2 separate regions of the Homo sapiens genome follow, and region 1 is linked to region 2. The links come from fine-mapping of genetic effects on plasma protein levels. A gene starts in region 2. The other region holds a variant in brackets. All regions are shown on one strand. Distances are from middle to middle.

Evidence for each region. PIP is the chance, under the fine-mapping model, that this variant and not a neighbour inherited with it causes the effect. The UK Biobank Pharma Proteomics Project read protein levels with antibody pairs (Olink). The fine-mapping took linkage between variants from a reference panel, not from the people measured, so its PIPs are less certain.
Region 1: its variant is fine-mapped to the plasma level of the VSTM2L protein (UK Biobank, PIP above 0.99). The variant lies in the coding sequence of VSTM2L. If it changes the protein, the assay may bind it differently, which can mimic a change of level.

The regions. Positions count from the first base shown.
Region 1 is chr20:37,928,871-37,934,232 of GRCh38, reverse strand. It overlaps VSTM2L (V-set and transmembrane domain containing 2 like), which reads right to left. Exons shown (of 4, transcript NM_080607.3): 2 at 2,429-2,598; 3 at 644-694. Among named protein-coding and RNA genes, the nearest start is that of VSTM2L, 28 kb to the right of the region's middle. The variant G/A (reference allele first, on the strand shown) is at 2,445.
Region 2 is chr20:37,900,063-37,905,424 of GRCh38, reverse strand. VSTM2L (V-set and transmembrane domain containing 2 like) reads right to left here and starts at 2,298. Exons shown (of 4, transcript NM_080607.3): 1 at 1,954-2,298. The coding sequence starts at 2,074. All of the region lies in intron 2 of LOC124904896 (a long non-coding RNA gene), which reads left to right. RefSeq lists an enhancer at 2,035-2,998.

The DNA of each region.
Region 1 (5,362 bases), 29 kb before region 2:
TGCACTGGCCTGCAGCACAGCCTGGTGACAAAGAGCTTCAGCCCTGAAGCCAGGTAGCTCAGCAACACCAGTCACCCTTGGCGTGACCTCTGGCAAGTCCCTGACCTCCTGAGCCTCAGCTGCCCCACCTGCAAAATGGGTGAATGCTTGGCCCTTCTTACAGAGTGTGGCTATTGACAAATGAGTCAATAAATAAGAAGGCCTGGCCAGTCCTGAAATCCTTTGGCTAGGGTGCCCCCACCCCGTCCCCGGGGCCAGATCACCAAGTGACCCTGAGATGGCGTAACACTCAGTCAGTCATGATAGGCCAAAAAAAGCTGGCTCAGGCTCATCAGACCTCATTGGTTCCCCAAATAAAAAATGCTGCTGAGACAAGCACGAAGGCACCAGGATGCACACAGCCTTGGCCCTGACAGGAGAAAATGCATCTTCTCTCCCCTGTCATTTTTTGTGCCCATCATTGAATGAACTTGAAAAATCTCCGGCTTTTAAAAAACAGAGCAAGGCCATTTTTTTCCCTTCTCTTTTTCTTCTCTTCCATCTTCTTGCCCAAGCTCCCTGCTGAACTGGACCCCAATTTTTTTTTAAGTCACAGCTGTGCCCTCCATTAGAGCCCTTTCGAGAAGTCATTATCAAAACTCACACTTATTTTGGTTGCCTCCTTCCCTGCGTCTTCCTGCTGAGATGCTTTTAGCTGTTGGGATCGGGGAGGGGCGGAGAGAGCAGAGACAAGGTGTTAGCACAGGGTGGGGGTGGGGTGGCAGTGTGGGGAGACACATTATAGGGATACGGACAACCGCTAAGATTCTCACGACAGCAGATGAGGCTCGGGGGCCATGGAGTCTGGAGTTGGGGTCCCTTTCTGTATCCACTCAGGGGAGGAGGTGAGGTCAGAGCAAAAGAAGATAATGGAGGTATGTAGAAAACTGACCACATTTGTGCATTTAGATACACAAGGGTGCTTTGGTATATATTGGAGGGAGTGTGAACAGGCAGAAATCTAAGCATTGGCTTGGTATGTTGCTAGGAGCATGTTTGTACCCTTGAGTCACTCTGAGAGTGTGTTTGTACCTTCAGGTGTGTCACCCATGTGAACGTCTGTGCAGACGCTGTGGGAACCCTGCCCACATTCCCCACCTTTGCAAACTGACCCTGGAAGCTTCCAACCGCAGATACCTGCAACGATTTGCCTAAGGGCTTTCTCTGGCCACTGAAGTCCTCTAAGCCTGCATGTGGCAGGGCTGGAAGTGTCAGGGAGCTGACACCCCCAGGAGCAAGACAAAGTTTGATATGCCCTTGGGCACATGTGAGACACTCTTTCATGAACATGGGGAGTGTATGAGTGTGCCAATGCGTGTTTGTGAATGTGTGCAGATATATGTGTTCATATACGAATGGGTGGGCAGATCTCTATGTTTGCGTGTTCATTAGTGTATACATATGTGTAAGGATGCAAATGATTCAGATGGAGTTCCTCCAAGAGCTGACCTTGAGACAAAGGTCAAGTAGTTTATTTGGGAGGTGATCCCAGGAAACACAAGTAGGGGAGAAGGTGAGTGAAACGAAAAAGGGAAGAAAGTTAATAATGGGGGGTATGTTGTTGGTTAGTTACCACAGTAGGCAATTGGAGCTTCGTCCCACTGGGCACTTGGTGAAACAGTGAAGAATATGCTTCGGTTGTCCCAGCTAAGGGCGAGGGAGCTGAGGCATTCATCCTCCAACTTTGCGGGTCATTGGTGGGGGCTGCTCCTGCCTATTGAGTCCCCTGCTCCTCCTGCTTGCCTTGATGGCCAGCAGGCTCTTGTGTCCAGAGAAAACCCTCAAGCAGAGCCAGAGGAGCTGGCAGTTGGCTGGTCCCAGAGCACGCTGCACACCAGGCATGGGGCAGAGCCCCCACAGCATCTGCTCTACAGGTGTGTACATACGAGCATGCACGTGTAGAGGGGTGAGCACATGTGCAGCCAAGGGTGTGCTGGGAGCCTGGTGCACGTATGCGTGTGTGCCTGTGAGTGAACTCAGCATTTGCAGAGCTCTTTATAAAAAGGCTGCCCGTGTGGCCCGGAGAAGTGGTGGGAAGTGAGTCACAAGACCCACCTTGCTCCATAACCTGAAGCCAGCTTGTCCCTCTGGCCTCAGTTTCCTCACCTGTACCCCGAAGGGAGGCCCTCTGTGCCCTGGAAGGCCCTCCTTGCTGTGGCCATTTCACGTGCTCAGCCTAGCTCTGCCTCCTGCCCGTTCCCCCAAATAAGCCTCCATGATCACCTAAAACCCCCACCCCAGGAGGAAGAAGGGAGGGAGACAGCTGTGTGGTGTGGAGAACAGCGTTGGAGCCCATATCCCTCAGAGGAGAAGAGGGGCAGAGAAATACCCCTACCCCAGGGACCAGGACTTCCCCAGCCCAGCTTGGGCATCTCCCCAGGGGCATTACCTGGTTCGAGGCCCAC[G/A]CCTGCTTGTCGGTCCAGTCCCGGTGGCTCCGTACATACCACCACTGGATCTCCAGCGAGTAGGAGGGGGAGCCGCTGCCGCGGAAGGAGCAGGCCATCTCCACGTCCTCGCCCGTCCGTGCTGTCATGTCATGGGGTGTCTCTGTGAACAGGGCTGTGCAAGAAACAGGGGGAAGAATGGCGGGGCTCAGGAAACCACGGGGCTAGTGGGTGAAGGAGGTGGAGAACGTAGGAACAGCTGGCCCTGCACGGCGGGGGATGGGTGGAGGGGGTGGGGTGACCTGCAAGCCCGCTGGTGGGAGTGGTCTGGCTTCAGCTGGGCACCCAAGAAGCTCAGCAAGGCAGGCCAAGGGTGTGTGCAGCAGCCAACATGAGATGGCGATGAGGGAGTAGGTGTCGGCCCTGGAGCCACACCAGCAGCCGGGCGCTGTGGGAGAACATGCCAGGGATCAGAGAAGGCCTGGGCTGGATGTGGACAGCAAGAAGGCCAGGGAGGAGCTGCCGCTTCCATCAGCTCTTCCAGGTTCTTCCAGTAACCCAGCTCAGTTCCCCTCCTGAGTTACTCCAGCATCCATGTACAGCGGCCAGCGCCATCTTTGCAAAACCAAATCAGATGTGGCCTCTCCCCTGCTTAGAACCCTCCCCTGGGACCCCAGGTATGGGGATCAGCACCCATTCCCCTGGCTTCCTCCCTGTCCTGTGGACACGCCTCCCTTTCTGGCCTCACTCTTGCTCTGGCTGTTCTCCTTCTGGAATGCCCTTCCCTCCACCCCTCTTTGCCCGGCTGGCTCCTTCAGATCTGGCAAAGATCAGCTCAAATGTCACCCCCCGAAAGGTCCTCCTTGAGGATCCCGAGAAGGTCCCCCACCTCCTGCCCTGCCCTGTTGCCTGCGGCAGCTCCAGGAGGACAGGGACACAGAGCTCCTGCCGCTGGCAGTTGCGGGCGCAGAGCAGCTGCTCGGCGGATGGAATGGGTACGGAATTCTCCACCATCTCAGGGCACCCAGGGTGAGGTGGGAGCCACTCCTGCCTCCTGCCCCATGCAGAGCCCAGCTCTCCACCACAGCCCAGGGCATACGGTTCCCCTGGCCCAGCAGGAGCCCTGCCCCATCCGTCATCCTCCATCCCACCAGGTAAATGAGAAAACATCCCCACTTCATGTGGCCCAGCGCCCCTCCCCACCATATGTTCTGTCTCCCGTCTCCCCAAACAAATATTGTCCTGAGATGTAATTAGAATTCTTTCCTCTTCTCAGGAGAGATTATCGCCCTGGAAAGACGCCTGGCAACGTGCAGGTCACCCAGGAACATTGTGGCTGTCAATCCCCTGGCCCCCACCCTGTCCCTCCTGGCTGCTGCAACCTAACAGGGTCCCCTGGCCCAGAGGGGCAGATTCCCAGCCCCGGGAGTCCTCACCACCCCAGCTCAGCTTAGGGAAGGAGGAAGAGGGAGTCCTGGGCTAGGAGGTGAAATCCTAGATTCAGGCCCCTGCTCTGGGGCCACCTCTCTCATCCCCCTGTCCCCAGGATACCGAAGGTGATGCGAATTGACAAACGACTCCATCTGGAAACTTCTGCCGTTTCTCCTCTGCTCATGGGGTTTCCATGTGCAGCCCTACTTGAACAGTGGGTTTCTGGGCTGAGAGCAAGTTTGAGATGTCCCTAATCCTCAAGGTCAAGGGTTTAGAAAGCAGCTCATGGAGGCTCCCCGCTTGCTGAGGCTTGGAAGTCCCAGCCGCTGTTCTGTAAACAAGGCCTGGTTAGTTAATAGGAATAAATGTCTGAGTTCCTGAACATTTGCGAGGGATGGTGTGGGGCGCCATCACACATAGCCCACTTCAAAGCTGTGACCCTTCTTATCCCCACTAAGTAAGAGGCAATGCAGGCACCTGGAAGGAAGATCCCTCCCCCACATCACCGTGAGGGCCACCCCCTCCTTCCAGGGGATCAACCCAGAAACTAGTCACCCTGGGCTCCCTCCCTCCACTCTCCCTTCCCACATTCAGTCTTCAAGGAACCCTGTGGGTCCTGCCTCCCGACACCTCCAGAATCTGGCCCCTTCTCCCCACCTCCACTGCCTTCCTGGGGCCAAGCTGCCATCCTCTCTCACCTGCAACAGTGGGGAACCCTCACTGGCCTCCCGCTTCCACTCTTCCTCCCCAACAAGCTATTTTCACACAGCAGCCAGACGTACCTTGACAAAACATAAATCATCCCTGTCCCTGCTCTACTCACCACTCTCCCAGGGCGTTCTCCTACCCACAGTAACAGCCACAGTCCTCACTGCCTCTGCTTCCCAAAGTGCTGGGATTATAGGTATGAGCCACCATGCCCAGCTAAAAGGATTGCTCGTGCCCAGGAGGTCAAGGCTGCAGCAAGCCTTGAACGCACCACTGCACTCCAGATGGCTGACAGGGCCTTCCATGGGAGGCCATTCCCTCCAGTGTTGGCCTCTGCCTGACTCCCTGCTCCTACTCCTGCCACAGTGGCCTCCTTTCAGCTCCTTCCCCAGGCATCCCAGTTGAGATTCCACCTCAAGACCTTTGCACCTGCTGATTCCTCTGCCTGGAACACCCTTTCCTCAGACTCCCCTGGAACTGCCTTCCCTCACATGGCTCCCTCCCTCTCCTGCCACAGGACCCTGCTCAAAGTCCGCTTCCTTAGGGAGGCCTGCCCTGACCACCTCATTTAAACCCGGCACTTCAAACCACCCTTCCCTCCAACGCCATCATCAGCACTGGCCAACAGGACTTTCTGCCATGAGGAGGGTGTCCTGTAACTGAGCTAGTACAGTAGCTAGCAGTCACCTGTGTCTGCTGAGCACTTGAAATGTGACTGAGGACCTGAATTTTAAATTTTATTTAATTTTAATTCATGTAAACATAAATGTTAATAGCCACTTGCAGGTAATGGCTATTGT
Region 2 (5,362 bases):
GTCACACAAAGGGCAGACAGACCCTGCTTTTCTATGGGGGGGAGCCACCTTGGGGCCTTGGGAATAACAGACTGGCACCCAAGTCCCTGGGGTCTGGTGCTCTAGGGACAGAACGACCATAAGCCTCAGAGTCCCATTCCTCATACCCCTCGGGACTGCAAACTCAGGGAAGGCCCTCCATGGAAACCCCTCCTAGTGTAAGTTCCAACTGTGCCAAGGGACTGAGCGGAGCGAGGAGAGGAGGGGTGGAGAGGGAGGAATTCCCAGTTTCCCTAGAATGGGAGGGAATCTGACAGGGAGATGAATGTCCTGGAAAAAAGCGCTGTCTTTGCCTGACAGACCCTGGGGCCTGTCCTGGCTCAGTCACTCTCTTACTGTGTGACCTTGGGCAACTTCCTTCACCTCTCTGAGCCTTGGTTTCCCTATCTGTAAGTTGAGGATCAAAAGAACCCTTTCCTTATTTACCACCGCTCTAGCCAGGTCGGTAGAAATGAGGTGAGGGGCATGAAGGGTATGTAAATGATGCACACAGCAGTTACTACCAAACATGGTGAGGCAGAAGGGGGCGGGGAGTCATGGTTCCCAAAAAGCAGAGACCCTGAGGATGGCTTCGAAGCCCCCCTCTCCACTGGAGCAATCCCACTCATGTGTCATACCCCAGCAAAACCTTCCCTGATTATCTACCCTGCCTTACCCCCACTCACTCCCATCAGAATAAATCATCCAATTATCTGGCCTTTGTGCAAACCTCCCCACAGCCCTGGGCCCACAGTGCCCAGCACTGGGGCTGCAGCCTCCCCAACAAGGCTGTCAGCCTGTCTAGTGAAGGGCTGCATGGAAGAAAGGTCTCCTTTGGTTTCATCTATGCTCGAGCCTCCATCCCAGAGCCAGGCTCACAGGGGTCAGGGGGAGCCCCCACAGCTGCCGGGCTCATACAGTCCAACTCTGCTGCCAACTTGGGCTCCTTCGGGGCTAGCAGGAGCTTCTGACACTCAGCCAGCCAGTGCTGGGAATGCTTGTCTGCTCCCCGGCTTCCACAGCGGCTGGAGTTGAGATTTCCCACATTTCAGTCCTCTAGGGCCGAGGATGAGGATGGGGGTACCCTATGGAAGGATGGCACGGCTTCCTGCCCATCCCCAGAGGCAGACAAAAGCACCCGGCATTCCACTTCCACTCCCACTCCCATGCCTCTGGCTGCAAGCAGCAACCCCAACTACTCCGGTGGCTCTGAGGGGCTTCCACCAGGTGCCACCCGCCCAACTGGGAGGCTGCAGCCCCAGGCGACCAGTTCTCAAGAAACAAGGTCTTCTGCCCCCAAGGACCTTTCCAGTGGTATAGGGCTGGGTGTGGAGAGGAAGAGGACAAGGGCCTCTGTGCGGTTAAACCCAGAAGAGTAAAGGCAGATGGGCAGAGAGGAGTGGGTGAGCAAATTGTGTTCATGTGTGTGTATGTGTGTGCCTGTGTGTGTGTGCGCGCGCGCGCACCAGTGTGTCTGCAGGTGGGCAGGCAAGAGTTGTGGCGAAGCGTGTGCGCCAGCTGGCAGAGTGAGCCCACCGGCGCAGTGCCTGATGTGCGTGTGTAGTGGGCATAAGTGTAAAGGCTTGCAGTGAGGAGGGGGACCTGAGGTGTGTGGAGATGTGCAGGGTAGGAGTTGTGAGTGTGAGAAAGCAGCGACTGTGGCTCTGAGTGTGTCCGCGGCTGTGCATATCGGTGTGGCCATGCAGGTGTGCGTATCCGCGCGAGTGTGTGGGGAGGAGGTTCGGGGGTGCGCCCCGGGTGCCCCCTTCTCTGCAGGGCCAGGGTGCCAGGGCGGGTCCACCGCGCCGGCAGGGGGCGCCCCGGGATGCCCGCCACGACTGGCGCCGGTTCGAGCCCCGGGGCGGCCAAGTTGGAGTGGCGCGGCCCGGGTTGGGGTTTGGTGGGGAAGTCCGCGGGGGCGGCGACCGAACTCACCGTGGCCGGAGACGTGGTTGTCCCAGGGCGCGTGGCCGGCGGGCCGCGTGGCGCCGCCGAGTTGCAGGAAAAGTGCCAGGTAGTGGAGGGCGCCCAGCGCTACGGCGAGCGGGGCCCCCATCGTGCGCTCTCGGGCCGGGGGCGCCGCCGCCTCACATCTGGGCCCCGGAGACCGCAGAACCGGCGCCAGCTGTCCCCTGCCCTGAGCGGCCTGGCTGCCCGGCTCCGGCAGCTGCCCCTCGCCCGCTGTCCCCGGACCCGGCCCAGCTCCCAGCCCTCGCCCGGCTCCGGCCCAGCCCCGGCTTCGGGGAGCGAGCGCACGCCCAGCCGGCCGCCTCCGACTGCGGGACTCTTCCCTTCCGCGGAAGGCCACGCCGCGCCGCCGCCGCACCCTCCTCCCTCCTCCCGCCTCCCTCCTCCCCTCCCTCCTCCCCTCCCTCCTCCCGCTCGGAGCAGGCGGCGGAGGGATCTGCCGCTTGATTTATCATCAAAGTTTTGCCCAGGCTGGGATTTTTAAAGCGGTACCCGCAACTTTCCCCCGCCCGAGTGCGGAGGCGGGGCCGGGATGGGGCGGAGAGAGCCACCCCAGGGACGCGGTTCCCGCAAAGCACGACCCAACGGGCTTCAGCCACAGAAATGCCGTCCAGCGGGGAGAGGGAGAAAAGCCAGGGCACCCGCCGCCAGGCCAGCGCACTCAGAGGCTCCTAACTTTACCGGCAGGGCGGGGCCGGGGTCAGGGGCCAGTGGGGCTGGGGGTGAGGGCGAGGTAGGGTGGGAGCCTGGGCTGAGACCCAGGGGACCTGGTGATAGCTCTGCCGCCGACCTCGGCTCGCTGTGTGATCGCGTCCGGGTGTCTACCCCTCTCTGAACCTCGAAGTCTTCATCTGAGAAATAGGGGTAATAGCTGTCTGCGGGGGTCCTGGTGAGGATTTGCGAAATCGTGCATGCAAAGCGCTTAGCATAATGCTGCCTACGTGGTAGGAGCTCAGTAGTTATTATTGTCGGTGTTCCCCTTTCTGGGACTCAGTTTTCGAGTCTTTGTAATGGGAGAGAGACAGGCCAGTTAGTTGTTGCGGCTCCTGGCTCTTGAAGATACTGGACCTTATGTGGTGGATGGGATCGCCCCCTTCTGGACTGTAGGCTCCTTCCCTAGACCAATGAGCCTTGATGGTGTGTGTGTGCATGAGTGTGTGTGTGCGTGTGCGTGTGCGCGCGCGTATGCGTGGGTGTATGTGTGTGTGAGTGTGGCAGGGGAGGGGGATAGGGCACCATTCCCATTCCCAAGAGCAAGAATCCAACAAAGTCCTCCAGTTCCTTCCCAAGCCGTGTTACTGGGGCTGATGGGACAGACAGGAGGGCGGAACTGTGGTCCCATTTAAAAGATAAGGAAGCGCCTGAAATCAGGTAATTAGCTTCTCTGAGGTCCCACGGCGAGTCGGGCGAGGCCCCTGACTCCTGGGCGGGGTCCCTCCTGCTCTCATCCCTTGCCCTTCCCCAGGCCTCCCTGCTCACACAGCCTGGTCCTCCCGGTTTCAGCACCACGGAGGAGGACAGCGCCAGCCCCCCCCCCGCCCCCCGCCCCCCGCCCCACCCGGGCCCATCCTTTGGGCACCGTGGACAGCGTCTCAACTGGCCCTTTGATGCTAGGGTTCACACCGTGGACAGACCCTCAGACTTTCTTCCCCGTCCCCGTCGAACAGGGTCAACCCCTCCGACAGCCCACTCCCCACTCCAGAACACAGGTGGATCCCGCGTCCAGCCGTGTGTACAGCGCCCAAGTTTGAGAACAAGGTTAGAGACCAAGGAACATAGCCCCTCGCCGTCTTCCCTCTGTCTTAGCGCCCCCCTTCCAGTATTATGGGGGGGGGGTAGCACACCGGATGGGGCCCGTGGTAGCCAGCAACAATCCAGCTCCTTCCAAACTAAGGACACCTCCTCCACGATGTCCCGCACTTACAAGCACTGTGTTCTAGCACCGTCCACAGCCCCCGCGCTCCCTTCAGTACCGAGGACAGGTCCCAAGCGTCGACCGCTTCCCCCACCCCCCGAACCTTCTGGACCACATGCCTTGGAGGAAGGGGCCGTGTTTGCCTGATTCTCTCACTTCTCACTTTCTTCCCACACAGAGGTGGTGTTTAGGTTATCCTGGGCTGGCCAGGCGTCTTGGACTCTATGCACGTGTTTTCTCATTCATTAACTACCCTGAACCCCGCTCCCAGCGAAATGAACTACTGCTTCCATCATAAAGATATGGAAACTGAGAATCCTCCAGATCACATAGCAGCCACCATGTTAGCCAGACTAAAACCCAGGACTCCTTCAACCCCAGCCTGAGGCCTCACCAGGAGACTGTGGTGACAGAACTGGGACTCAAACCCGGGCTTTCTCCTCTTAAACCACAGATTGGAGGGAGCAGACACAGGCAAGGGGACAGGGAGGGAGAGGAGATTAAAGAGGAGTAAACAAGAGATTGCTCAGGCCTGCAGAGGAAGGGGGTCTGGCGGGATGGCAGCACATTGCTGCTGTGCCCCTAGCCCACCGGCTGACCTTCAGAAATCTTTTCTCTTTGAAGCCTGGAACAAGGTCAAGGTTCCTTCAAGGACAGACATCCAGGGATTGTATGCCTTTGAAAATGCTCGTGATCGGCCAGGTGTGGTGGCTCACGCCTGTAATGCCAGCACTTTGAGAGGCCGAGGTGGGCATATCACGAGGTCAGGAGTTCGAGACCAGCCTGACCAACATGGTGAAATCCCATCTCTACTAAAAATACAAAAATTAGCCAGGAGTGGTGGTGGGCACCTGTAATCCCAGCTACTCAGGAGGCTGAGGCAGGAGAATCGCTTGAACCTGGGAGGCGGAGTTTTCAGTGAGCCAAGATCACACCATTGTACTCCAGCCTGGGTGACAGAGTGAGACTTCATCTCAAAAAAAAAAGGAAAAAAGAAGAAAATGCTCATGATATAATGGTTCTGCTAAAAAAACCCTCTGATGGCCTGTTTATGTGAGAAATCCTGACTTCTCTAGTTTGCATTCAGGGTCCCAGACTCACCTCCTGCACATATCCTGTGCTCTCTTGGGCATGCCTTGGCCTCATTACATCTTCAACCTTCCCAGTGCTTCCCCTGTGCTTGTATGCCTTCCCCTCTGTCTAGCTGAGTCCCCAGTTGGGCGAGGTCCAGCCTGAGTCCCCATGGGAAGAAATGCCTGCTGCCTTCTCCCAGTCCCCAAGCCTCTGTTGGCTCATCACTGTATGCCCAGCATGGCCCTAAGAACTTTCATTATTCCCCTTAATCCTCAGAACCACCAGGCCAGGTAGGGTAGGATGGTGTGGTTAGAAGTGTGGGCTCTAGAGCCATATTCTCTGTTTTGAATCCTGCCATTTGGTAGCTGTGTAAACTTAGACAAGTTG